Linked DNA regions of Homo sapiens: all the other regions are linked to region 1. The links come from fine-mapping of genetic effects on gene expression. A gene starts in region 1. Each other region holds a variant in brackets. All regions are shown on one strand. Distances are between the middles of the regions. Region 1 holds the start of EFNA1 (ephrin A1). Region 2 holds the start of EFNA3 (ephrin A3). Region 3 has its middle 10 kb from the start of DPM3.

Region 1 (8,000 bases):
AGGTAGAGGTTGCAGTGAGCAGAGATCACACCACTGCACTCCAGCCTGGGCGACAAGAGTGAAACTCCATCTCAAGAGTAATAATAATAATAAAATAAAATAAAATAAAACCCATCAGTGGCGAGAGCCCTCAGGATAAAGTCCAAACTCCTTATCACCTTTTAGTTCCCCCATGGTCTGTTCTGTCCACCTCTCCAGGCTCACATCTCCTCACTTCCTGTGTCCCTCCAACTCCAGCCAGGCTGAGCCACAGGAAGTTCCCTGAAGATGTCATGCTCCCTTTGTACGTGTGCCTTCATGCCTGGCCAGCTCCTCTGCTTGTCCTGAGCTCTGGGACCATCTTCCCCACTGAGCCTTCTCTGAGCCCCATAGCCTGGCAGGTGCCCAGGTCATTTTCCCAAGGCCCCTGTGTTCATGTCTACTGTAGCACACTGTTCTAAGGGTCTCTTAACCTATGTGTGTTTCTTCCCAGCTTCCTTGAGGACAGGGGCTCTGTAGTGTTTTATTTATCTTTGTGCTCATAGCGCTAAACAGAGTGCCCAGCACATAGTAGAAGCTCACTCACATTGGGATGTAGATGAATGAAAATAGAATTCAAGATCGGAAGGGGCCCTCTGCTGCTGGACTCTACACCAAGCATGTACCCAAGCATGTATGTAATGGCAAAAAAGAAACACAGACACTGTCCCCTCACAGGCACTCACAGATGTAGTAGTAGCTGTGTCCTTCTTTGAACTCCTTGCCCAGGGTGAAAGGTGTGAAGCGCTGGAACTTCTCAGACAGCTTCTCCGGGCCATGCTTGGCACTGGGCCGGTTGCACTGCCAGCGGACTTGGTCCTTGGACTGGGGCTGGCACAGCTGGTACTCCTCATGCTCCACCAGGTACAGTATGTACTGCTCCATGGCAGCGTCTGCCACAGAGTGATCTTCATAGTGCGGACAGATGATGTCCACGTAGTCATTCAGCTGCACATGTATGGTGTAGTCCTCATTCCGGAACCTGGGGACACACACAGGGGGAAGAAGCAGGTGGTCATTCAGAAGCCAGGCCAGATCCTTGGGCCTCTGAATGTTTACATGACCTCTCACATTTCACACTGGACCCCAAGAGATTTTTCCGAAGTTTCAACTCCCAATATGTACTGATCTTGATGTCTTACATTTCTCTCTGCCATCTCTAAACATTCCCCTGCACCATCACTGTCTCCTGTTGGTCCTTCAAATAGCATTCACTCAGTATCTTTCGGGTACCAAAGCATTTTCCATAACCCCCCTGATACTTACCTGATATTTAGATGGGCTTCTACCTATTTCTGTAGCTCACTTATCATTCTCTTCTACCCATAAATATTTCCCCAAATCTGTTCTACCAGTTGCTCCTTTTAAATGCTGTTAGGCCTCAATCTGAGACCCCCACAGGTCCATTCTGTAATCAGAATCCAGGAAACCCTTTCTCTTTACCATGCTAGCCTGGAGCCTCCAACACATCTGTGTCTTCACTTTCCTTACTCCTCTCACATTTCCCCGGACCCACTGAGTAGATCTCACATTTCCCAGCTTCACTTTTCCTCAAAAGTGAAGCTAGTATACCCGGGCCCACAGATAATGCCCCAGTCCTTTAAGTTAAATCACTCTCATCAATTCATTCAGCCCCCTCAAATCTTCCCGTTCTAGCTACTCAAAGTTATACACTGGTCTCCTTTTCCCCTTCTCAGAGCACCCCAAAACAACCCTGTCCTTTTATCTCTAAAAGCCACACTTCCACCTCCCCCTAGATGAAATGCTGGAGCTCTGAGCTTGAGCTTGAGACAGCCTCTCCCCTCTCCCCTCTCTCCCCTCTCTCCTCCTCTCCCCCTCTCCCCTCCTCTCCCCTCCTCCCAAGGTGGAGCCAGCACCCCTCCCCTAGTTCATTCCCCCTGGCCCCACCGGCTCCAGCCTGACTGCCCACCAGCCCCTCCCCACCAGCTCCAGACACCTGGCTCCAGCCTGGGTGGGGTCCCAGTAGGGGGAAAAGTGCTTCCCCCGACCCCGCAAGCTGGTCAGTTTCTCTAATTCCCCCAGGCACTGCCAGCTAGAGACCCAGCAGAATTAGCGCTAAGTTGCTTCGAACTGAAAGCCCTGGCCACGGCTGGGAGGGCGAGGAAGGAGTCAGGCAGAGAGGACTCGGAGGTGGGCACCCACTGCCCAATCAGCATGACCCCTGAGAGGCCAGGCTTTGCAGCAGCGTGCCAGCGCCCAAACTGGGCTTACCAGGCCCCTCCCCCACCCTGGGGAAAAGAGAGGAGCAGAGAGAGGCTTTTAAAATTCCTCTCTGGAGAGATAAACATAGAAGCCATTTCAGAACAGGTATTTCAGCTCTGGGCCTGGCGTCTTTCCCTCATTCCCGTGACGGGCACTGACTCATTCCTCATCCACCTCTGCTACCCGCCCCAGCACTCATGAGAACTTGTGAAAACTTACCTTGTCAAATGTGCACAGCCCCCAGGACCCCAGGAGGGCACAGCGCCCACTCACCCCCAACAGTGTCCTCCAAACAAAGGGAGCTGGCAGGTCAGAATGAGGGGCCTGCCCTCCAGCATGAGGGAGGCTGGCGCCCTTCTCAGCATGCTGCCCCCGCCTGAGGCCTGGAGATCCCAGGGCTGCTGCCCACTGGCCTGAGTCACCCATGCCAGCCTCACCTACCCCGTTCATTGTAGCCTCATATTTGCCCCCACGCTGGGCCCAGCTTGGCTGCCTACGGACTCTACTCTGGACTGGCGTCTCTTTAGTCCTGGGTATGATAGGGTGTGCGTGTGTGTGTGTGTGTGTGTGTGTGTGTGTGTGTGGCCAGAGGGTCACCCATCAGCCCCCTCTCCTGGGGGTACAGTCTGCTGTACTTAGCCTTCATTTGACTCTTGCTCCCCATCTGGGAAAGGGGGGCAGCGGCGTCAGGGAAGGCGGGGAGGTGGGTAAGGAAGAGGCTCCTTCCTGAAAGAGAGGAAACCTGGGAGCTTGGGAACGGAAAAGGCCAGGGTCCCCCCCTCCCTACTCATGGCTTCCTGTCCCCTCCTCCTCCTCCAGTCAACACCTGGCATGGGCATAAACAGGGACTTTGCTCTCTCCCATACTAGGGCGAGATGCATCAGGTCAAGGAGGCAAAGCACAGGGAGCGGGTGGCGGAGGGCTGGCTGAGCCTCCCCAGCGTCCATGGGCAGGAGGGCATTGCCCTCTGGGGTTGGCAGCTGGCTGTTCTCTCCCCCACCCTAACAAGCCACAGACAACAGACTGCCTCACCAGACGATGACACGGGGTCAGAGGAAGCTGGCACAACATATTTCTCAAGGGGAGTGGGGGGCAAGCTTGCTAGGGCCGAGAGTGGCTAAGCCGGTGAGATGGCTTTCGTGATACCAAGCTGCCCACTTCTCTCCCTGCTCCTCCCTACCACCCTCTCCTGTATTCCCTCAAATATTGTTCCCATAACTTCAGAAAACTCAAGGGCAAGAACAAAGGGGCCGACAGAGTCTTCCTCCCAGTACCATTTGCCTCACAGCCCTAAACCTGCCCAGGAGAAATTAACTCCTTCCTGCCCAGAACCTTCTGTAACCCCTTTAACCTCTTCTGTTCATTCTGAAGCTTTCCCATGATCTCCCTCTCCCAGCTCTTCGCTTTTACTACTTGAGAGCCCCATAAACAGGTGATTCCCTCAGCCTACCCATGCACAGCATGTGCCTCACTCATGCCACCCCAAAAGACCCCTAGTGAGGGACTTTCCAGGTTTGCTTTAAATACAGGGTGAATGCATAATGAATGCCTACAGCCCAGCTCTCTCCTGAGAGGTCCTTCCAGGGTTACCTTGAGCATTCTGTGCACTCTTGATGTCACACCAGGTATCTGTCAGTGTGGTCAGATACCCAAAGGACACACAAGGAGAGGCGTGGAGGCTTTCACAGTGGGGGGGTGGGGGGCCTGGAACAAGGGCCCTGGCTGCCAGGGGCGAAGTCTATGCTGAAGGCAGGAACTGCCCAGCATGAGTCCCTCACTTTAGAGTAATAGGGGTGCCAGAGAGAAGGAAGGGAAGGGCAGATATAAGCCCATGCAAGTAGACACAAGCATGCCCCGGGGTGGGGTGCTCCCAGATATGACGGAGAAGTGAGGGGAGGAAAATCTACAGCCGCCCTCCTACCTCGGTCATCTACTCTAGGCTCAGCTCAGGGTTTGGCCGGGACAGTTATCCCGGTGGGGTAGTGCCAGCCGGGAGCCCAGGCTGCCAGCGGGAGTCTCGAGGCTTACTTGGGATTTGAACTGTTCCAGAAGACGGTGTGGCGATCAGCAGCGGCCAGACTGCAGCACAGACCCAAGAGAGGGGCCCAGAGGAACTCCATAGCGCGGGGCCTGGCCAGGCCGAGCGGGGACGCGGGTCTCCTATGGGTCTGGGTTCCCACTGGCTTTCTCCGCGGCGCAGTCAGCGCTGGGCTCACAGATCTGGCCCCTTCGCCTAGCGACTCCGCCTTTTGGGCCGGCGCCGCCCGACACCCCGCCCCGCCCTCGCCCCGCCCGGCGCGCGGCTGCCTGGGGGCTTGGGGGCTGGGGAGGTGGAGGAGGGGCGGGGTGGGGAGGCGAGGAGGCTGGGGGTGCAGGAAAGAGCGAAGCGCGCTCCTCTGCCCCCGCAGATCTGCTCAGAGATGTGTGTTCGCTCACTTGTGGGTCTGCGTGGAGCTTTGTGAGCCTGTCCCGGTGGTGGGCTTGCGTCCCTGGGCGCAGTCGCGTGCGGGAGAAGGGAAGAACTCGCAAGTGCGAGTCTGCGAACGCGGGGGTGCGGGACACGGCTTTGCTGCTCCGCGCGCGGACCTTGCAGGGTGCGAGGTTGTTGACATGCCCCGCACCTTTCTGAGCCTCGCATGCCCAGGCTCGGGCGCCCGCGTTCCCACACTCTCCTCCTCCCCCATCCCCTTCCCGGACTCTGCGCTTGACTGCCCCTCCCCACACACACGCGGCTGTTTGTTTTTGTTGGGTTTGTCAATGTTGTCTTTGTTCTGGAGATTGTGTCATCGCCTAGATGCCGGGAATAAAGTGCAACGCTTTGTGTGATCGAGTGTGTAACGTGTGCGGCCGGGGCTAAGGACGCCTCTGTCCATCACATCAGTGCCTGCCCGCAGGAGCGACACGCGGGACCCTGGGCTCGAGAGGGGGCCGTTCTTATTTTAGATAAGTCAAAGAGCGCTAATAACCTGAGTATATGTAACAACACACGCGTACACCGTGCGAACAGGCTCTTGAATATGGACTGTGAGAATCTGGGCATGAAGGGTGACAAACTGTAACCACACATGAAATACGTGTGATGGCGCGCTAGCATGAAAGCATTTGTGAGTAGTATCACAGCCGCGTGTGTGGAAGCGTGTGAAACTCTTTGACAGACGTATGCTAATGTTTGTGAACAGCGTGTGAAGAGGAGGGGAGACGCGTACCGGCGTGCAGCGGGGGTGGGGTGGAACGGAGGGGCGTTTGTGCGCAGTCCTCAGGCTGCACAGCTGGAGCTGGCCCAGTCTGAGCTGGGGCTCCCAGTCAGTCGGGCCCCAGTACCCGGCTCAGGCCCCCTCCCCCGCGCTGTGTAAACAAACCCACTGGAATTTGCCTCTCGGGGCTCTTCTCCCCGCCTGGATCTGCTGCCGTCTGGAGAGGGCTTGGCGGGCGGGTGTCAGCTCCTGGGGTGGAGAGGGCGGGCAGGTGTTTGATTAGGCTCACGAGTGAGCCTGGAGTGGGAGAGCCGAATGCTGTGTGTCTGCGTGCGTTTGGTGGTTTACGTGTGTGGTTGTGTGGCTGTGTGCGCGCCAGGTTGGTGTTGTGAGTGTGTGTGCGCATCCTCAGCCGGCCCTTCCCTGCGGCTGCGCATCGCGGGAAGCCACGGACCCGGGGCCCCTGGCCAGCTCCGGCCCAGCTTCTCCAGTTCCCAGGCCGTTTCATCCTCCTATTTTACGGCCAGGCCTGGCTACAGCCCCTGTAATTACGCGGGGCCCGGACGCCGCAGCAAGTCTGGCGCTGACCCCGCCGGGGAGGAGCCTGGAGCTGGGGAGGGCCCAGCCGGCTCCCCACTGCACCACCACGTGCGCTGAGGCCGCTGGAGGCCGTATTCGCTGCGTTTACAATAAACATAGAGTACCAACGGCCTCTAACCCCGTGGCCGGGTCAGGGCCGGGTTTTGCGCACGGCCAGCGCCACCCCCCTCTCCCTCGGGCACCTGCCCCAGGCGACGTGCCCAGCCAAGCGTTTGTCCGAGGTGCGGCCCGCTCCTCTCGCCCAGGACGAAGTCCACCCGCCGACTGCTCCCAGGGCGGCACCTCACGCGCCTTTTGCTCACCTAGGAGGACACCTGGGTGTCGACCTCCCACGTGGCCCCGGCGAGAGTACTGCCTCCCAGTTCGGGCATTCCATAGAGTCAAAGCTCCAGGAGGACATGGGTTTTTGTTTTGTTCATTATCTTACTGCCAGCACCTGGCACAGCATCTAGCACATACAGTAGATGGTCAGTAAATATCTGTGGAGTGAGTGAAATCACTCACTGTTCAGTGAAGGAACTTAACTTCTGCTGGACATAACTGTTCTGAAAAGGAGCCAGCAGGGGGGTTGAAGAGGGGAGGGATGCTGGTAGCTCTTTAGAGCAGGTGGCCCGGGTTGCCTCCTGGAGGAGACAGCTTTGGGCCGGATTCCCTGGTTTCTCTGACCACTGGGACTGGGCGGGGACGTGTGAAGTCCCACGCTGCAGCTGCTTGGGCCAGGCAGGTTCGGGCTCGCTGGGCCCAGTCTGGCGGGGCCACGTCAGCTCTTGCCTGCGTCTAGGTCTGGAGCAAGCTGGGTGCAGAAGCGTGCATGGAAATTCTGCGCACCGACAGGACCCGGAGCCCTCTTTCCCTGCTTTGGTGCTGTCCCCAGTATTCTCATCTCACTTAGGGCATTGATCCCATCACTCTCTATCCACTCCCCTATCCATATGGGGGTCGATCATCCACCCTACTGGAGCAGCCCTAGACACTGAGTGTTGTGATGAGCTGGGTGTTGCGATGGGCACCGAGAGTGTAAGGATGGGTTTAAGATAAAATCACTACCTTGGGGAGCCCCCAGGCCGGTAGGGGATATTGACAAGCCACCAGGACAGCAAACTTGCTAAGTGCTCAAGCCCAGACTGCGGCCCTACCACTCACAGTCACACTACCCTGACCCTTCCTGGAGCCCCTGCAATGCCTGCTGTGCTGAGAGGAGAGTTGCAGGGCACTGTGCCATTCAGACAGAGATAATAGTAGGGACTTCTGTTCCTGGAGACTCGATCTGCTGACCAACTCTGGGGCCCCCTCCCAGTCCCTTCCTCATGCCAGCCCCCAGCCTGCCCGGGTGGGTCTGCTCTCCATTCTTGCTTCGTGCTGCCTCTCGCCGCAAAATTGTGTGCTTGTGTTGGCTCCCAGCACGTCACCCGCAGGCAAACATCTGCGCTTAGTGACGAGAGCTGCCTGAGGTGTCTGTCTGTCTGCCTGTCTGCATGTCTAGGAAATTCCTCCATGAGTCCTTTCTGGAAATTCCTGGGAGGGCAGGAATTTCCTCAGAGGAAATTCCTCTGAGGTCTTGGGGTAGGCCCTGGCTGCCTGGAGGCAGCATTTCCAGTTGGGAACAGGTGCAGGTACTGGATTGCGACTCCTTTGCTGGGTGCCCTGCAGTTTGGGGAGGGGAAGGCCAGAGCTGCAGGGCCCTGGGGCAAGTGAAACCTGGCTCAGCCCCAGGGGTCATCTCTGGGCAATGGGGTGAGGCAGCAGGGGGAGGAGCAGAACCTGGGCTGAGAGCAATCTCTGTCGTACTCCCTCAAGGTCATTTTGAAACATAAAGTATACCCTTCCCCACTTTATTAGTAATGTGCACACATTTTTCAGAAGTTGGAAAATAGGCCGGGCACGGTGGCTCACGCCTGTAATTCCAGCACTTTGGGAGGCTGAGGCGGGTGAATCACTTGAGGTCAGGAGTTTGAGACCAGCCTG
Region 2 (8,000 bases), 53 kb after region 1:
AGACACCCCCGAGTTTCCTAGACGCCCACAGAGTGCGTCCCCCTCTCCGTCCCCTCCCAGCCCCCAGCTCTGGTCTCCCAGGACTCCCACCCCGGGATCCCCCAGGACTTCTCGGGCCCACCGGCTCCCCCTCTCACTGAGACGGGACGCGCGGACTCCCAGGGTCCCCGACTCACTGCTGGTTGGAGCTGTTCCAGTACACCGCATGCCGGTTTCCCAGCGCCCCTCCGGGCCCTTGGGCCAGCAGCGGCAGCAGCGGCACGGGCACGAGCAGCAGCAGCAGCAGCAGCGGAGCCGCCGCCATCCCCGGAGCCGCCGCCGCCGCCGCCCCCCGACTGAGCCCCGCGCTCCCGGCTTCTCCGCTTCCCAGCTCCCTGCTGCCGCCGCCGTCGGCCCCCAGCCTTAGGCCACGCCCCCAGCCCTTCCCTCCGCCCTCCTGGGCGCGCCCCCGAAGCCCCGCCCCTGGCGCGCCCCCGACAGGCCCCGTCCCGCTCCGGTCGGGAGCGCGCGACGCGTGGGAGGTGGGGACCGTACTGCCCCCTCGGGAAAGACCAGCGCGTGCCTCGTCTCTCCTTCTTGAGTTCAGTTTGCTACAACTGGTCCTGGGTCTTTTGCTCCCCAGGCTGAATTTCCCAGAAGGATTTGGGAACCCAAGATAAGGATCTCGATCTCAGGGAAGCCCAATCATCTCTGGGAATGAGGGGAAGGAGAAGACTTGAGAAGAAGTTGGGGATCCAGGACCTCTTAGTAAGTAGGGCTGGACCCCTTCCCTTCTGAAAACTGTGGCCCTCTGCTGCGTCCATGCCCCCTTTTCCCGTGTGCATGAGGACTCAGGTGGGCACAGAAGGGTGGTGGAGAAGTCCTCAGCTGGCACCAAGGCTTTGACAGCTGGTGACCTGAAGCCCCCAGCTGAGCATGAGGCTTGTTTATCTTGGAGGCAGAGTAAAAGAGCTCAGCCCCTGAGAATGTCAATACTGGGAGCTGTAAGAGTCTTCAGTGGTCCAGAACCCAAGGCGCAGGAGGGGGTCAAGGAGAGAGTCAGCTGGGGCAAAGCAGGGTTCCCTGGACACCTACAAAGGATTCCTCACTGGCACTTAGGCAGGGCCCCTCCCGGGGCAGCCAGGGTTGTCCCCAGGGATTCTCACTCCTACTCTCAGAGACGCTGATCCTGAGTCAGAGGGCAGAGCACCTTGTGTTCCAGCTCTCACCACAGTCATTGTCCTCACAGTGACACCCAAGCACACACATCACACACACACATTCAGGAAAAAAGGCACAGTCACCCAAAGGCAGAGAACATAGAGACACAGGTGCCTGACACAGACATATGGACACACAGGTACACCTTCCAGACACACATAGGAAAGGGTACTATCAGACTGCTAGAGATCAGGCACAGAGACACCCAAGCACACACCTATATCCATCCACACACAACACACACACAAACCCACATGCATCCTGACACACACAGTTCCTTGCTCTCCTCTTCTCTCTTTCTAGGAAGTAGAAGTTCAGGAAAAGGGTTCAGAAACCAGACCTAGGGCTATCTGTCCCTTATCTCTTCTCTTTTGGAGAGGCCCAGACCAGGCGGAACCAGGCCTGACTGGGTTCTCAGAACGCAAGCCAACCACCTGTGTCCAGGGAGACAGGCATGCTGCTACTTTGCTTCTATCCTTCAGGAGAGGGAACATGCAGGCACCTCCCTATCTGCTTATCTGTGGCAGGACAGAGTCTTGACCACAAGTCAGCCTCAGGTGCTAGGCTGGGGGCAGGGGCGGTGCTATCCAGAATAGGTTCAGTGTCTGACTGCTGCCAGGTGAGAGTAGTCTCTGTTTTCTCTGGGCTCCTCTCCACCCCAGGAGATCTCTTCTTCCTTCTCAGGAGCCAGCAAATAAATTAGGCCCCTTGGGATGGGAGTGGGGGACTCTGCAAACAGCTCTCCCTCCCTGCAGGCTCCTCATCCCCAGAGAGATTTGTTTCACCCAAATGATGCTAACCTGCTTACTCCAGGTGCCACAAATCCCAGCCCCCTCCACTCAAATCATATTCCCTGCTCCACAAGGGCAGCTTCTCTCTGTAGGGGCCCACAGTTGGCAGAGACGCTGCTCATATTGATAGTGAACAGGAACTTGCTGGTTTGGTCTAGGACTTTAAATTCCATTTTAGAAAAGATATATCCCTGTTTATCGAATCTAGGTTCTGCTTAAGAATTTGGGCCTTTTTCTATAGGGCCTGGGTACTCTTTAGAATCTGGCACCCCCACACCCACCCTCCAATAATAACTGAGCCCTTCTCTTAGAATCCGGAGCCCTCTCTACAGGATTTAAGCAGCTCTCTCTATGGAGTCGAAGCCTCTGGTTTTGAAGTTGAGATACTCTTTATAGGGCCTAGCTAGGCCTGTGTCCGTGGGATCTAGTGCTTTGTCTACCTGGGCCTCTATCCATAGGGCTGCTAGCTGATTTGGGCCTTTGTGTGAATTAGAAAAAGGACCCTTCTTTGCAGGCTCAGTCCCTAGGGTGCATCTCTTGGCAAGTGGTGCCTTTGTGCAAAAACAAAGGTGCTGCCTCCTTCAGTGAGAGGTGGCTCTAGTGGCTCCCTGTCTTAGTGAGGGAGCTTGGGCCGATGTCCCCTTCCCCTTGGGTGGCTCCTTTGTGCCATGCACAAACTATATGACCATATATGGCAATTCTGTCTACAGGATATGTGCTTCTAGCTATAATGCCTATGTCTGTCTATAGGCCTCTATTCATAAGGTCTGGGCTTCTCTAGGGACTGAGTCCCTGTGTATAAGATCTGAGCCACTGTCCACATGCCCAGGGCCTAATCTAAAGGCCTGGGCTTCTCTCTGTGGCATGTGAGTCATGGAAGGACCCAGGCCTTATTGATGGGGTCTAGACGTTTGGGTATAAATGTAACTCAAATTGTTTCTGACTGTGATCCACCACAGTAGGATTATATTTTGCACTGCAGTTCAGTCACACACACACACACACACACACACTCATACACACACACTCATACACACACACATTTAACTGAAATAATAAGTTTCATGAAACAATACTTACCCTTACTACAGAGGATGCACGATGATATTTTCCTCTGTTCTAGTTTTAAAATTAAAAACAATAAAATAAAAAGCTGGTTGAAGCCCATAAAATTGACTTCTTGACTTTACCATCCCCACTATAGATCACAACCTATAGTGTGAAAAACTGGTGTCTAAGGCCTGGGCCCTGAA[C/T]GACCTCTCTGTTGGATGAGGGCCTCTGTGGAGGTTGGAGCTCCCTCCATGGGGCTGGTCCTGTTTTCAGGGCTTCAGGCCTCCTCCTCCTTACCTGCAGGCTCTGACTCTTGGGCTTGCTAGCACACTGCTGGCTGCCAAGATCTCTCCCGGGACACTGAGCTCAGCTCCTGGGAGGACTCTGACATGGTGCCTCACTCTCCTCCATCCCTCAGGGGCCAAGGAAGCAGGGAGCTGAGCAGGTGTGGGACAGAGGGAGCTCTCAGGCTGTGTGGCCGAAGGCAGCGTCTGGGACAGTAGGTGGCAACCACAGAGCTGAGCTGTGTTCAATAAATCATGGAGGCTAGGGCCTGGGGAAGGGGGAGGTCAGGAGGGAAGCGGGGCCATGGATAAATAATTCATTAAACAAATAAACAAGGAGCCTGTGAGAGGGAAGATCAGGCACACGTGTGAGCAAGAGAGGCAGCTGCCAGCTCCAGGCATGAAATATTCACAGGTTCTGCACCTTGCACAGGGCCCGTGTGTGTGGCCCCAGCCCAGGCAGGCTGTTGGTGCCGTCCTAACCAGGAAACCTGGGTCCCAGCAAGTGTGTGTGTGTCGGCATGGCTCTGAGGATGCTCTAACGTCTGTGAGTTGACATGGAACTACATACAAGCCTGACAGCAGGGAACATAAGCACTGGTATGTGGTCCAGTTCACAGGAAATTAGGATGCAGGGCTTGGTGGGTGGCATTGGGGTGTAATCACCTCTGATTCTGGTCATGTCCTGATCCCTCTAATGAGTCCAGCAAGCCAAGAAGCCTGGAGCTCTGGGGTGTTACACTAGAGGTGTGTGTGAGTCCTCTGAATGTATTTCAAGAAAAGCTGAGAGGCAGCAGTATTGGCTTAGCAGTGAACAGCCTGGGCTTGGATTCGAATTCCAGTTCTGCCACTCGCTAACTATGCTAGTCACTCAACTTCTCTGAGACTGCTTCCTCATCTGTAAAATGGGGATAATAATGCCCCACCTCAGGGAGCTGGTAGTTAAGAGGATTAAGATCCATAATACCTGGGAAGCACTTAACACAGTGTTTAGGATCCCAGAGGCACTGGATTAATGGAGGGTTTCTTATAATTAAGAGGTTATCTACTGAGGTCTGCCCACCTAGACCAGCCCAGACTCTTTTCCATTTGTTCTCCCTCATTTCCAAGCTTTCCTAACAGCTAACATAGGGAGAGATGTGACCTAGGGCTTAGAAAGTATGCAAGGGGTAGGAAAAGATTAGATGGAATGAGAAGAGGAGGTTACAGTCAAAAAAGGAAGTCTCTATTCTTGACAGTGTGGAAGAAGGGACCTTGACCTTCTCCTCAGACCCCAGAGACTCTCCTTAAGCCTTAAAAGTCTTCCTAAATCCAGACTTTCACCAAAGTTTAGCTCTCTAGAAAGTGACTGCAATGGCCGGGTGGCTCACACCTGTAATCCCAGCACTTTGGGAGGCTGAGGCGGGAGGATCACGAGGTCAGGAGATCGAGACCATCCTGGCTAACATGGTGAAACCTCGTCTCTACTAAAAATACAAAAAATTAGCCAGGCATGGTGGCGGGTGCCTGTAGTCCCAGCTACTCGGGAGGCTGAGGCAGGAGAATGGCGTGAACCCGGGAGGCGAAGCTTGCAGTGAGCCGAGATCGTGCCACTGCACTCCAGCCTGAGCAACAGAGCGAGACTCTGTCTCAAAAATAAATAAATAAATAAATAAAAGAAAGTGGCTGCAATGCCCATGCAGTGGCTCACACTTGTAATCAATCCTAGCACTTTGGGAGGCTGAGGCAGGAGGATGACTTGAGTCCAAAAGTTTGAGGCTGCCATGAGCAATGATCACACCATTGCCCTTCAGCCTGAGCAACAGAGTGAAACCCTGTCTCTTAAAAAAGAAAGGAAGGAAGGAAGTGGCTGCAAGGAGGCAGAGAGATTGGAGCAGAGGTCTCTGAGTAGCATCATAACCACCACCCCCAACAAGTCTTCCCTGCCAGAGTTCTGGCCCCCACCCTCTGCCTAGTGGTTGAAGGCTTCCTTGACAAAAATGATTGTGTCTGGGCAAAAACCAGAAGAGTGGCACCCCAGAGTGGGTGGGGAGAATCCAGGATGGAGAGAGCCTCAGAGGGCCAGGGTGGAGTATCTGGCGGCCTCCCAGTAGGTCCCAGCATTCCCCAGCCCTCTGTGTCCCCTGGAAAGGATCCGCTCCCTGTGGGAGAGCCAGCAAACAGGTCTGAGCTGGCCTGCTCCTCCACAGACAGAAGAAGAACAGGTTGGGGGAGGGGGCCTGAGATCTTGGTGGGGAGTGGTAGCGGTAACCCCCATGTCTCCTCTGAGGAGTTAGGGACAGAGGGGACTAGAGCCTGGGCACACCCTACAAAGCCAGGGGCCCAACCCTTCACCTTCTTTGGTCAGCCTGCTGCCACTTTGGGAGCCAGGGGTCTGGGCCCCCAGGTGTGAAGATGGTGCCTGCCCACCCTTTCCCAAGGAGCCAACATCAGTCTCCACTTCCCCTCCCCTGGGCTGGGCAGGTTCAGGCCAATCTGCTGAAGAGCTTCACAGCAAACATTGATCTGTAATAAAACCACAATGTGTTTCAGGAGAAGGGATTCCAGACACAACACACATACACTAACTCACACACATACATACGGATGCAAAACATGCCGCTCTGGGAGGGCAGACACCAGCAGTCCTGAAAACACATCCAAACATAGACCCACACTGTGTCAAACCCACAGACATTATTAGTTCTACACATCCCCTCTCTGCCATATACTTTGTCCTTCAAAATCAAAGCCTTCTCTGATGACCCGTTTTCCCTGTGTTCCCATAACACTTCGTATATAGCTCTATATTAGCATTTTCACTTTGCATTATAATTACTCATTGGCCAGTCTGTCTCCTTGGGTAATCTGAAGATCCCTTAAGGGAAGCGATCTTGTCTTATGCAAGTGTGTGTCCCCAGCATCTAGTATGCAGCCTAGTATTTACTTAGTAGGAGTAGTGAGGTGCTTAATAATTGTTGAATCAAGGAACAAAAGAATAAATGCCTTCTGACAGTGGGACTCCCATTTCTAGAATCCTTCAGAAGCCCACAGTAGAAAACCGTGCATGCTACTCAGGCTTCTGACCCTGCCTTCTTTTCTCTTGGTCCCCTCACCACCACTCAGCTCTCCAGAAGCCCTCCTTTCCTTCCCTTCCCTCAGTGTGAGACCACGAATTTGAGTTCAACCTGAGGGTTGGCAGGCAAGGTAAGGGTTAATGACACCTCATTAGTGTTTAATTGGAGGAAGGAAGCTGCCTTGGCACCAGACAGGTGGGCAGGCCTGCCCCTTGCTGGAACCAGGCATCCCTAGTTCCAGCACCCCGCCAGGCATGTGGGTGATTTGGCCCTGGAGACCCTCCACCCAGCCGGGGCCAAGCAGTATAGACTAGTACTCCCCATCTGTCACCAAACATCCAGCGGGAGAACAAACTCCTTATCCTTTCTTCTGTTGCTGGCTTTGCCCCATCCGTCCCCAACAGACACTGGAGAATGGGAGAGGTGGGGTATGAAGGTGGAGAACTGAGGGACAGATTACAGAGCCACTCAGGGATAGATTCCAGAAACAGACAGGCGACAGGGCTGGGGATGTGGAGATGTCTGCCCAATTTGACCTTAAATGAAGAGAATGCAAATGAGATGCAGACGATATGCAGATGAACACAGGATCTCAGTACTGACATTCCTGGTGGCAGCAGCTCTGCACCCCAATGCTGTTGCCAATAACCAACCTACTCCTAATCTTTCTGCGTTAAGTGGTGCTGACCATTACTTTGAGAACGAAAAAGGATCTCAAGAGAGATAAGAGCTTGCTTGGGCTAGGGCTGCAGGACCTGGGAAGCTGAGCTCCACCCCAGCTTCCTCACCCCATCCCAAGCACCCACCCAAGCTGCCACAGCAGCTCAGGCAAACATTACTCTCCAGGTTGCACTCGGACGCACCGTCGGTTGCTATGGGGACCCCTTCCTCACTTCCAGACCTGAACCAATGGGCATCACCGCTGATGACCTCATGCCCCAGGCCCCGGGATTCTATTGGCTATTTGGAAGCCAGAGCGCACCCTTTTCAATGGCGTCACCGCTGGGGATCCCCCGACGACCCCAGCTAGCGTCTGGCCTACTGAAAGAAAGGCGCGCTGGAAGCTCACAATGTGCTGAGTGAATGAAAAAGGAAAGAAGGAACTAATAAAAGGGAAGAAGAAAAAGGGGGGAGGTGACAGAAAAAGAACAAAACTTCAGGGTTGAATCTGGAGAAGAAAAGGGAGATTTGAAACCCCAGAAAGTGTGGAGCAGGATTGCCCGTCGCAGAGACTCTCAGGCTCTCAAACAGGGAGACAGGGCGAGGTAAAGATGAGTGGAGTTTTCGCATCTATTCGGGAGAGACTAGGGCAGGCCCAGCAAATTGAGGGCCCCACCCTAAGCCGCCTAGCGCTACTGAGTTTAGGGGAGATCGGTGACGCCCCAAAACTTGCAGGCCTGCCCAGCCTCCTGGAACTGCGCCCTGGAACACGCCTCGACTTCTCGTGGGTAAGGCCCGGTGCCTGGAAGACCTCCCAGCGCCTGCAGCCCGTCTCGGCCCCATGAGTGGACTCAGCCCTGGCTTTCCATGGGGACGCGCCCCGGGACTGAATCAGCCGCCCGCGCATGCTATGAGGAAAGTTGTATAGGGAAGGCCGGCTGGGCCTGAGCGCCTGTGGC
Region 3 (10,839 bases), 23 kb before region 1:
AGTACTCCATTGTGTATATGTGCCACATTTTCCTTATCCATTCATCTGCTGATGGACACTTAACGTGCTTCCAAATCTTGACTATTGTGAACAGTGCTGCAACAAACATGGGAGTGCAGATATCTCTTTGATATACTGATTTCCTTTCTCTTTTGGTATACACCCAGCAGTGGGATTGCTGAATCACATGGTAGCTCTATATTTAGTTTTTTTGAGGCATCTGTAAACTCTGCTTGCACTAATTTACATTCCCACCAACAGTGTAGGAGGGTTCCCTTTTCTCCACATCCTTGCCAGCATTTATTATTACTTGTCTTTTGGATATAAGCCATTTTAACTGGGGCAAGATGATATCCCATTGTAGTTTTGATGTGCAGTTCTCTGATGATCAATGACGTTGAGCACCTTTCCATATGTCTGTTTGCCATTTGTATGTTTTCTTTTGAGAAATGTCTACTCAAATCTTATGCCCATTTTAAAATCAGATTATTAGATTTTTTTCCTAAAGAGTTGTTTAAGCTCCTTATATATTCTGGTTATTAATCCCTTATCAGATTGCAAATATTTTCTTCCATTCTGTGGGTTGTCTCTTCACTTTGTTGTTATTTCCTTTGTTATGCTTTTTAACTTGATGTGATCTCATTTGTCCATTTTTGCTTTAGTTGCCTGTTCTTATGGTATATTACTCAAGAAATTTTTGCCCAGACCAATGTCCTGGAGTTTCCTCAATGTTTTCTTGTAGCAGTTTCATAGTTTGAGGTCTTAGATTTAAGACTTTAATCCATTTTGATTAGATTTTTGTATATGGCGAGAGACAGGGGTCAAGTTTCATCCATTTTTTTTTCCTGTGCAATCTGCCTCCCTTGTTTCATTCTTCTGCATATGAATATCTAGTTATCCCAGCACCATTTATTAAAGAGAATGTTTTTTTCCCCAGTGTATGTTCTTGGCACCTTTGTCAAAAATGAGTTTACCATAGGTGTATAAATTTGTTTCTGGGTTCTCTATTCTGCCATTGGTCTATGTGTTCGTTTTTATGCCAGTTCCATGCTGTTTTGCATACTATAGCTCTGTAGTGTAATTTGAAGTCAGGTAATGTGATTCCTCCAGTTTTGTTCTTTTTGCTCAAGATAGCTTTGGCTATCCTGGATCTTTTGTGATTCCATACAACTTTTAGGATTGTTTTGTCTATTTTCGTGAAGAATGTCATTGGTAGTTTGATAGGGATTTCTTTGAATCTGTAGATTGCTTTGGGTAGTATAGACATTTTAACAATATTGATACTTCCAATCCAGGAACATGGAATATCTTTCTATATTTTTGTGTCTTCTTCGATTTCTTTCATCAGTGTTTTATTCTTTTTCTTTCTTATTTATTTATTTATTTATTTATTTTTGAGATGGAGTCTCACACTGTTGCCCAGGCTGGAGTACAGTGGCGTGATCTCCTCTCACTGCAACCTCTGCCTCCTAGGTTCAAGTGATTCTCCTGCCTCAGCCTCCTGAGTAGCTGGGACTACAGGTGCACACCACCACCCCCGGCTCATTTTTGCATTTTTATTAGAGACAGGATCTCAGCATATTTGCCCGGCTGGTCTTGAACTCCTGGCCTCAGGTGATCCACCTGCCTCGGCCTCCCAAAGTGCTGGGATTATAGGCATGAGCCACCGTGCCCAGCCTTTCTTTCTTATTTATTTTTGTAGAGATGGGATCTCACTATGTTGCCCAGGCTAGTCTCAAACTCCTAAGCTCAAGCAATCCTCCCACTTTGGCCTCCCAGAGTGCTGGCATTACAGGCATGAGTTACAGCTCCCGGCCTCATCAGTGTTTTGTAGTTTTCATTGTAGAGATCTTTCACTTCTTTGGCTAAGTTAATTCTGAGGTATTTAACTTTATTCATGGCTATTGTAAATGGGATTACTTTCTTGATTTCTCTTTCAGATTGTTAACGATTGACATAGAGAAATGCTACTGATTTTTGTATGTTGACTTTGTATCCTGCAACTTTACTGAATTTGTTTATCAGTTCTAATGTTTTTTTCGTGAAGTCTAGGTTTTTCCAAATATAAGATCATATCACCTGCAAACAAGGATAATTTGACTTCTTCCTTTCCAGTTTGGATGCTCTTTATTTCTTTTTTCTTTTTTTTTTTTTTGAGACAGAGTTTCGCTCTTGTTACCCAGGCTGGAGTGCAACGGCGTGATCTCAGCTCACTGCAACCTCTGCCTCCTGGGTTCAAGCGATTCTCCTGCCTCAGCTTCCCAAGTGGCTGGGATTACAGGCATGTGCCACCACGCCCAGCTAGTTTTTTATTTTTAGTAGAGACGGGGTTTCTCCATGTTTGGTCAGGCTGGTCTCGAACTCCTGACCTCAGGTGATCCGCCAGCCTCGGCCTCCCAAAGTGCTGGGATTACAGGCATGAGCCACCACGCCCAGTCCTCTTTATTTTTTTCTCTTGTCTGATTGCTCTAGCTAAAACTTTCAGTACTATACTAAATAACAACGGTCAAAGTGGGCATCCTTGTCATGTTCTAGATCTAAGAGGAAAGGCTTTCAGTTTCTCTGCAGTCAGTATTTTACTAGCTATGGGTCTGTCATATATGGCATTTAATATGTTGACGTATGTTCCTTCTATATTCATTTTTTGAGGGTTTTTATCATGAAGTGATGTTGAACTTTATCAAACATTTTCTTAGCATCAATCGAAATGATTATATGGTTTTTGTCCTTCATTCTGTTGATATGATGCATCACATTGATTGATTTGCATAAGTTGAACCATCCTTGCATCCCCGGGATAAATCCCACCTGGTCATGATGAATGATCTTTTTAATGAATTATTGAATTTTGTTTGCTAGTATTTTGCTAAGAATTTTTGCGTCAATATTTATGAGAGATATTGGTCTGTAGTTTTCTTTTCTTCATGTGTCTTTGTCTGGTTTTGGTATCAGTAACACCAGCCTTGTATAATGAATTTGGAAGTATTCCCTCCTCCTCTATATTTTGGAACAGTTTGAGTAGGACTGGTATTAGTTATTCTTTAAAATTTTTTTTCTTTTTTGAGACAGAGTCTTAGGCCGGGCATGGTGGCTCACGCCTATAATCTCAGCACTTTGGAAGGAATCCCAGCCTGGGCAACAGAGTGAGACTGTCTTGGTTTTTTTGTTTTTTGTCTTTTATTTGGAGATGGAGTTTCGCTCTTGTTGCCCCCAGGCTGGAGTGCAATGGCCCAATCTCTGCTCACTTGCAACCTCTGCCTCCTGGGTTCAAGCAATTCTCCCGCCTCAGCCTCCCGAGTAGCTGGGATTACAGGTATGCACCACCATGCCTGGCTAATTTTGTATTTTTAGTAGAGACAGGGTTTCTCCATGTTGGTCAGGCTGGTCTCAAACTCCCAACCTCGGGTGATCTGCCCACCTCGGCCTCCCAAAGTGCTGGGATTACAGGCGTGAGCCACCGTGCCAGGCCTAATTTTTGTGTTTTTAGTAGAGATGGGGTTTCAGCATGTTGGCCAGGCTGGTCTCGAACTCCTGACCTCACGTGATCCACCTGCCTTGGCCTCCCAAAGTGCTGAGATTACAGGCGTGACCCATCATGCCTGGCCTCTTTCTTTCTTTCTTTTTTTTTTTTTTGTTTGAGACAGACTCTTGCTCTGTCGCTTAGGCTGGAGAGAAGTGGCATGATCTCTACTCACTGCAACCTCTGCCTCTCGGGTTCAAGCTATTCTCCTGCCTCAGCCTCCGGAGTAGCTGGGATTACAGGCATGCACCACCACGCCTGGCTAATTTTTGTAATTTTAGTAGAGACAGGGTTTCGCCATGTTGGCCAGGCTGCTCTGGAACTCCTGACCTCAAGTGATCCACCACCTTGGCTTGCCAGAGTGTTGGGATTACAGGCGTGAGCCCCTGCGCCTGGATTTTTTTTTTTTTTTTTTTTTTTTTAATAAAGACAGGGTCTCTCTATGTTGTCTAGGTTGGTCTCCAACTCCTGGGCTCTAGCAATCCTCCCACATTGGTCTCCTAAAGTGCTGCGATTACAGGCATGAGCCACCATGCCCAGCCTACTGGGAGACTGTATTACAGCTCTGATCTCGTGACTTGTTATTGCTCTATTTGGGTTTTGGATGTCTTCATGGTTCAATCCTGGTAGGTTAGATGTATCTAGGAATTTATCCATTTCTTCTGGATTTTGCAATTTATTGGCATATAGTTGCTCATAGTAGCCACTAGTGAGCCCTTGAATTTCTGCGGTATTAGATGCACTGTCTCCTTTTTAATCTCTGATTTTATTTATTTGGGTCTTTTCTTTTTCTTTTCTTAGTCTGGCTAAACGTTTGCCAATTTTGTTTATCTTTTTAAAAAAACAACTTTTTGTTCGTTGATCTTTTTTATTTCATTTATTTATTTATTTTTTGAGATGGAGTCTCACTCTGTTGCCCAGGTTGGAGCGCAGTGGCGCGATCTTGGCTCACTGCAAGCTCCACCTCCCAGGTTCAAGTGATTTTCCTGACTCAACCTCCCGAGTAGCTGGGATTACAGGCACCCGCCACCATGCCCGGCTATTTTTTTGTATTTTTTGTAGAGATGGGGCTTCGTCATCTTGGCCAGGCTGGTCTTGAACTCCTGACCTCATGTGATCTGCCCGCCTGGACCTCCCAAAGTGCTGGGATTACAGGTGTGAGCCACTGCGCCTGGCCTGATCTTTTTTATTTTATATTTTTATTTTTATTATTTCTTTTTGAGATGGAGTCTCACTCTGTTGCCCAGGATGGGGTGCAGTGGCACGATCTTGGATCACTGCAAACCCTGCCTCCCAGGTTCAAGTGATTCTCTTGCCTCAGCCTCTGGAGTAGCTGGGATTACAGGTGCATGCCACTACTACCAGCTATTTTTTGTATTTTTAGTAGAGATGGGGTTTTCTTCATTTCAAATTCATTTATTCATTTCTTTCTTTCTTTCTTTCCTTTTTTTTGGGGGGGTGGGGGAGAGAGGGGACAGAGTCTTACTCTGTTGCCTGGGCTGGAGTGAAGTTGTGTGATCTCAGCTCACTGCAATCTCCGCCTCCCGGGTTCAAGCAATTCTCCTGCCTCAGCCTGAGTAGCTGGGACTGCAGGTGCATGCTGCCACAGCCAGCTACTTTTTTGTATTTTAGTAGAGACAGGGCTTCACTGTGTTGCCCAGGCTGGTCCCAAACTCCTGAGCTCAGGCAATCTGCCCCGCTTGGCCTCCCAAAGTGCTAGGATTACAGGCGTGAGCCAATGCGCCCGGCCCAAATTCATTTATTTCTGATCTGAACCTTATTATTTATTTTCTTCTCCTAATTTTGGGTTCAGTTTGCTCTGCCTCTTCAAGTTCTTTAACATGCATCATTAGGTTATTTGGTTGTTTTTCTTCTTCCTCTTTTTTTTTTTTTTTGAGAGGAGGGTCTTGCTCTGTTGCCCAGGCTGGAGTGCAGTGTCGAGAATCATGGCCAACAGCAGCCTAGACCACCCAGGCTCAAGTGATCCTCCCACCTCAGCCTCCCAAGTAGCTGGGACTATAGGCACACACCACCCCGTCTGGCTAATTTTTGTATTTTTGTAGAGGCAAAGTTTTGCCATGTTGCCAAGGCTGTTTTTCCTCTTTTTTGATGTAGGCACTTATAGCTATAAATTTCCCTCTTAGTACTGCTTTCACTGTATTCCATAGGTGTGTTAGTAC[G/A]TTGTGTTTCTATTATCATTTGTTTCAAGAAATTTTTCAATTTCCTTCTTAATTTCTTCATTGACCCACTGGTCATTCAGGAGCATATTGTTTAATTTCCATGTATTTGAATAGTTTCCAAAATTCCTTTTGTTATTGATTTCTAGTTTTATTCCACTGTGGTCAGAGATGTTTGATATTATTTCAATTTTTTTGAATTGAATGTTTTAAGACTTGTTTTGGGAGTAACATATGGTCTATCCTTGAGAATGATCCCTATGCTGAGGAGAAGAATGTGTGTTCTGTAGCCATTGGATGAAATGTTCTATAAGTATCTGTTAGGTCAATTTGTTCTGTAGTGCAGATTAAATCCGATGTTTCTTTGTTGATTTTCTATCTGGGAGTTCTGTCCAATGCTGAAAGTTGGGTGTTGAAGCCTCCAGCTGTTTATTCTTTTTTTTTCCCCCAAGCCTAACTGTATCCAGTTTTATTAAAGATACTTTGCATAAACAATCATGGTATTTCAGGCAGGACATGGGCAGACAATCATTAACAGTATACAACAACTTTCAAACTCCCTTCTTCAATGGACTACCAGAAATCAGAAAGCCACTATAAAACCCAATGAAGTCTTCATCTGATGATCTGAACAGGGAAAGTTTAGAGTGAGAGTTGACATTTCACATTTAGCATGTTGTTTAACAACTTTTCACAAGTCAACCCTGACTTTCAGGAAGTGAAATTAAAATGGCAGAATTTATCTGAAGATCTACAATCTAGAAACAGAACCACTACTTTTTTTTTTTTTTTTTTTTTTTTTTTTTTTTTTTTGAGAGGCAGTCTCGCTCTGTCGTGCCCAGGCTGGAGTACGGTCGTGTGATCTCGGCTCACTGCAACCTTCGCCTCCCAGGTTCAAGTGATTCTCTTGCCTCAGCCTCCCAAGTAGCTGGGATTACAGGCATCCGCCACCACACACGGCTAATTTTTTGTATTTTTAGTAGAGAAGGGGGTTTCACCATATTAGCCAGGCTGGTCTCAAACTCTCGACCTCAGGTGATCCGCCTGCCTCGGCCTCCCACAGTGCTGGGATTACAGGCGTGAGCCACCACACCCCGCACCATTGCTCTTTTGACAGGTGCCATCTCAGTGACATCACTGGAAAGTCCAGATTGCCTGACACACTAGTAACCAATGATTGGAGGTCAGGTTCCAATAGATGTCTGGGCTTAAGGGAGTTAAGTCTATGCTGAAAGATGGAAAGGGAGAAGAGGACATAAAAACAAATTTGCTTTTCCCTTTCACAAGGCTTTTGTGCCAAGGTGGCCATGTGTGTCAAAGTCAGGGAATCCCTCCTCCTGGGAGCCAAGAGGAAGTCTCTCGGAACTAGAAGGAAAAGACGATTTCCCCATATCAATCCAGCTTCAGAGACATTCTATTAGTGACATTTGCTCCTTCTCCTAAAAGCAACAATGAAGTGTTCTGTGTGCTAACAACATAGCTTAAAAAAAAAAAAAAAATCTGGGCCGGGCGCGGTGGCTCACGCCTGTAATCCCAGCACTCTGGGAGGCCGAGGTGGGCGGATCATGAGGTCAGGAGATTGAGACCATCCTGGCTAACACGGTGAAACCTCGTCTCTACTAAAAATACAAAAAATTAGCTGGGCGTGCTGGCAGGCGCCTGTAGTCCCAGTTACTCGGGAGGCTGAGGCAGGAGAATGGCGTGAACTTGGGAGGCGGAGCTCGCAGTGAGCCGAGATCACGCCACTGCACTCCAGCCTAGGAGACAGAGCGAGACTCCGTCTCAAAAAATAAAAATAAAAAATAAAAAATAAATTTAAAAAATCTGCATTTTTATAAAACTTGATACAAAATAGTATTTCAAACTGTACACTCACCAGAAGTACACAGTTATCAAAAATGCACACACTTCCTCTGGCATCTCCAGCACCTTCAGCTTTCTGTTCCTGGTCTGTTTTGGCATCTCCATTTTCTGCAGGGTTATTCCCCTCCTTTCCAGCATCAGCTTTTCCCTTCTTCTCTTTGAGTACCTTCTCTCCCTTCTTTGCAGGGGCCTTTTTAGGCTTGGGCTCTGGCTTTGGAGAAGAAGGTTTAGCAGACAACCTCGCGGATCTCCTTTGTGGTTCGTCCTTCACCTTGGCTTTATCTCCTTTAGGATCCCCTTCAGCCTTTCCCTTGGGCATGGTGGTGGCAACAGCGACGGGATGTAGGCGCTGGGCACGCGGGTCGGTCTGGGGGTCATTCTTGTATCTTCTTCTTCTTCTATTCTTTAGCTCTAATAATATTTGCTTTATATATATGGATGCTCCACTGTTGGCTGCATATATATTTATAATGATCATAACCTCTTGCTGAATTGACCCCTTTATCATTACATAATGAGCTTCTTTGTCTCTTCTTACAGTTTTATCTTGAAATTTATTTTGTCTAATATAAGTATAGCTACTCCTGCTCTGTTTTGGTTTCCATTGGCATGGAATATCTTTTCCCTTTATTTTCAGTCCTATATGTATCTTTACAGGTGAAGCGTCCAACAGAAATACTTTTATTTTATTTTTTTGAGACAGAGTCTTGCTCTGTCACCCAGGCTGGAATGCAATGGTGCAACCTTGGCTGACTGCAACCTCCACCTCCTGGGTTCAAGCAATTCTCCTGCCTCAGTCTCCCAAGTGGCTAGGATTACAGGTGCATGCCACTGTGCCCGGCTAATTTTTGTATTTTTAGTAGAGACAGGGTTTCACCATGTTGGCCAGGCTGGTCTCGAACTCCTGAACTCAAGTGATCTGCCCGCCTCGACCAACCAAAGTGCTGGGGTTACAGGCATGAGCCACCTCGCCCAGCCCACACATACTTTTAAGGGGTCTTTAATCACTTGACCCTGGCCAGCTTTTCCAACCTCATCCTTGCCACTGCCCCCATGAAACATTCTTTGTCTCAGACACAGCCACAAAAGATTGCCCACCATGAACTTTCAGGCCTCTCATTCAAGCTGTTCCCTTGGCCTTACATGCCCCCTCCCCTCACCTAAACAACTCTTACTCATCTTTCCAGTATCAACTCAGGCTTCTGGGCCTCTATGAAGCCTTCCCTCCAGATAGTCCCTTCCTTCTCTGTGTTCTGTTTAACTTTGCATATCCTTTTATCTTCAGTACAGAGGCTCTTAGATTTGGAATTTGTCTTCCAAATTGTTTGACTGGGCTCAAGCAATCCTCCTGCCTCAGGCGCTGGAGTAGCTAGCACTATAGGCATGCTCTACCATGCCAGCTAAAATTTACATATATATAATATATGTATCTATTTAATAGATACATAAATATGTATCTATTTAATAGATACATATTTAAATATGTATCTATTTAATAGATACATATTTAAATATGTATATATTTTATAGATACATATTTAAATAAAATATATATTAAAAAAATTTTTTTTGAGACAGAGTCTTGCTCTATCGCCCAGACTGGAGTGCAGTAGCATGATCTTGGCTCACTGCAACCTCTGCCTCCTGGGTTCAAGCAATTCTCCTGCCTCAGCCTCCTCAGTAGCTGGGATTACAGGCGTGCACCACCACACCCAGCTAAATTTTGCATTTTTAGTAGAGATGGGGTTTCACCATGTTGGCCAAGCTGGTCTCGAACTCCTGACCTGGTGATCTGCCCACCTCAGCCCCCCAAAGTGCTGGGATTATAGGTGTAAGCCACCATGCCCGTCCATTTTTAATATTTTTTTTTATAGAGACAAGGTCTCACTATGTTGCCCAGTCTGGTCTCAAACTCCTGGCCTGACACGATTCTCTTGCCTTGTCCTCCCAAGATGCTGGGATTACAGGTATGAGCCACCATGCCCAGCAAAAGCCCCAATTAAAAAAAAAATTATTATTATTTTTTTAACCATGACACAGCCTCAGGAGGTCCTGATGACATGTTCCCCAAAAGCCCCAATTTTTAACTCCCAAGCTGCTCTGCCTCTCATATCCTATTGTAATCACATGTACTTCATCCTGAGGTGGTAGTGGAAGGGTAATGATCTGCAGAAAGACTGAAGAGAAAGGAGTTGGACTGTAAGAATATTCTGTCTCTTGTCCAGTGCTATCCAAGGCCAAACACCCTGTGTCTGGCAGACTGGGGTCTCTGGAGTAGTTGTATTTCCTGGGACCAGGAAAGCTAGCTCAGTTTTTCTGGAGACCATCTAATGCCAAACTGTCCTTCTCTCTCTCGCTCACTCATCATACATTTATAGAAACCCGGCTACATTTCCCACACTGTGCTTGATCTTGGGAATACAATGGTCCTGGGGGCAGGACAGGCAGAGAAAGAAAACCCCTACAGCTCAACATGGTTATTGCCATGAAAGTCAATAAAAGAAAGTCAGTGAGAGCAGGAGGAGGGAGATGGGGGCCAACCCTGCAGGACAGAATCAAGGCGCAGGAAGGCTGCCTGGGAGACATGATACTTGAGCTGAGCATTAGAGAAACATGCACCACATTTGCTTGCAGCATATTTAGAGTTTCACTTTTTACATTAAAATTGTTTTGGGCGGGGCCCGGTGGCTCACACCTGTAATCCTAGCACTTTGGGAGGCCAAGGTGGGCCATCACAAGGTCAGGAGATCGAGACCATCCTGGCCAACATGGTGAAACCCTGTCTCTATTAAAAATACAAAAATCAGCTGGGCATGGTGGCGTGTGCCTGTAATCTCAGCTACTCAGGAGGCTGAGGCAGGAGAATCGCTTGAACCAGGGAGTCGGAGGTTGCAGTGAGCTGAGATCATGCCACTGCACTCCAGCCTGGCGACAGAGTGAGACTCCGTCTCAAAAAAAGAAAAAGAAAAAGAAAAAATTGTTTTTATTGCTCTGGGTCTTTGTTTTGGTATAAGATGTGAGGTTCAAATCTACCTTAATTTTTTTTCAAATGGTAAGCTAGTTGCAAATGCTTTTCAAACAATCCATCTTTCCTCACTCACTCAAGATGGTGCCTCTATCATATGCTACATTGGTATATATGCCTGATCTATTTTCTCTTTTTATTATGTTCCATCAATCTAGGGAAGGAGGCGCTAGACTGCAGTGGTAAAGTATGCAGGCTCTGGAGGAAGATCGGCTGGGTTGTGCCTCAGTGTCCTCATTTGTGAAACGGAGATA

What was found. PIP is the estimated chance that this variant, and not a neighbour inherited with it, causes the effect.
Region 2: its variant is fine-mapped to the expression of EFNA1 in whole blood (TOPMed, PIP 0.99).
Region 3: its variant is fine-mapped to the expression of EFNA1 in blood mononuclear cells (TOPMed, PIP 0.99).

The regions. Positions count from the first base shown.
Region 1 is chr1:155,124,339-155,132,338 of GRCh38, reverse strand. It overlaps EFNA1 (ephrin A1), which reads right to left and starts at 4,463. Exons shown (of 5, transcript NM_004428.3): 1 at 4,270-4,463; 2 at 705-1,000. The coding sequence starts at 4,361. RefSeq lists silencers at 4,513-4,572, 7,352-7,646 and enhancers at 5,769-6,608, 6,609-7,448.
Region 2 is chr1:155,071,246-155,079,245 of GRCh38, reverse strand. All of the region lies in intron 1 of EFNA4-EFNA3 (EFNA4-EFNA3 readthrough), which reads right to left. EFNA3 (ephrin A3) reads right to left here and starts at 409. Exons shown (of 5, transcript NM_004952.5): 1 at 177-409. The coding sequence starts at 304. RefSeq lists silencers at 151-300, 331-490 and enhancers at 7,166-7,678, 7,754-7,833. The variant C/T (reference allele first, on the strand shown) is at 3,245.
Region 3 is chr1:155,145,584-155,156,422 of GRCh38, reverse strand. It overlaps the pseudogene HMGN2P18. Among named protein-coding and RNA genes, the nearest start is that of DPM3, 10 kb to the right of the region's middle. The variant G/A (reference allele first, on the strand shown) is at 5,701.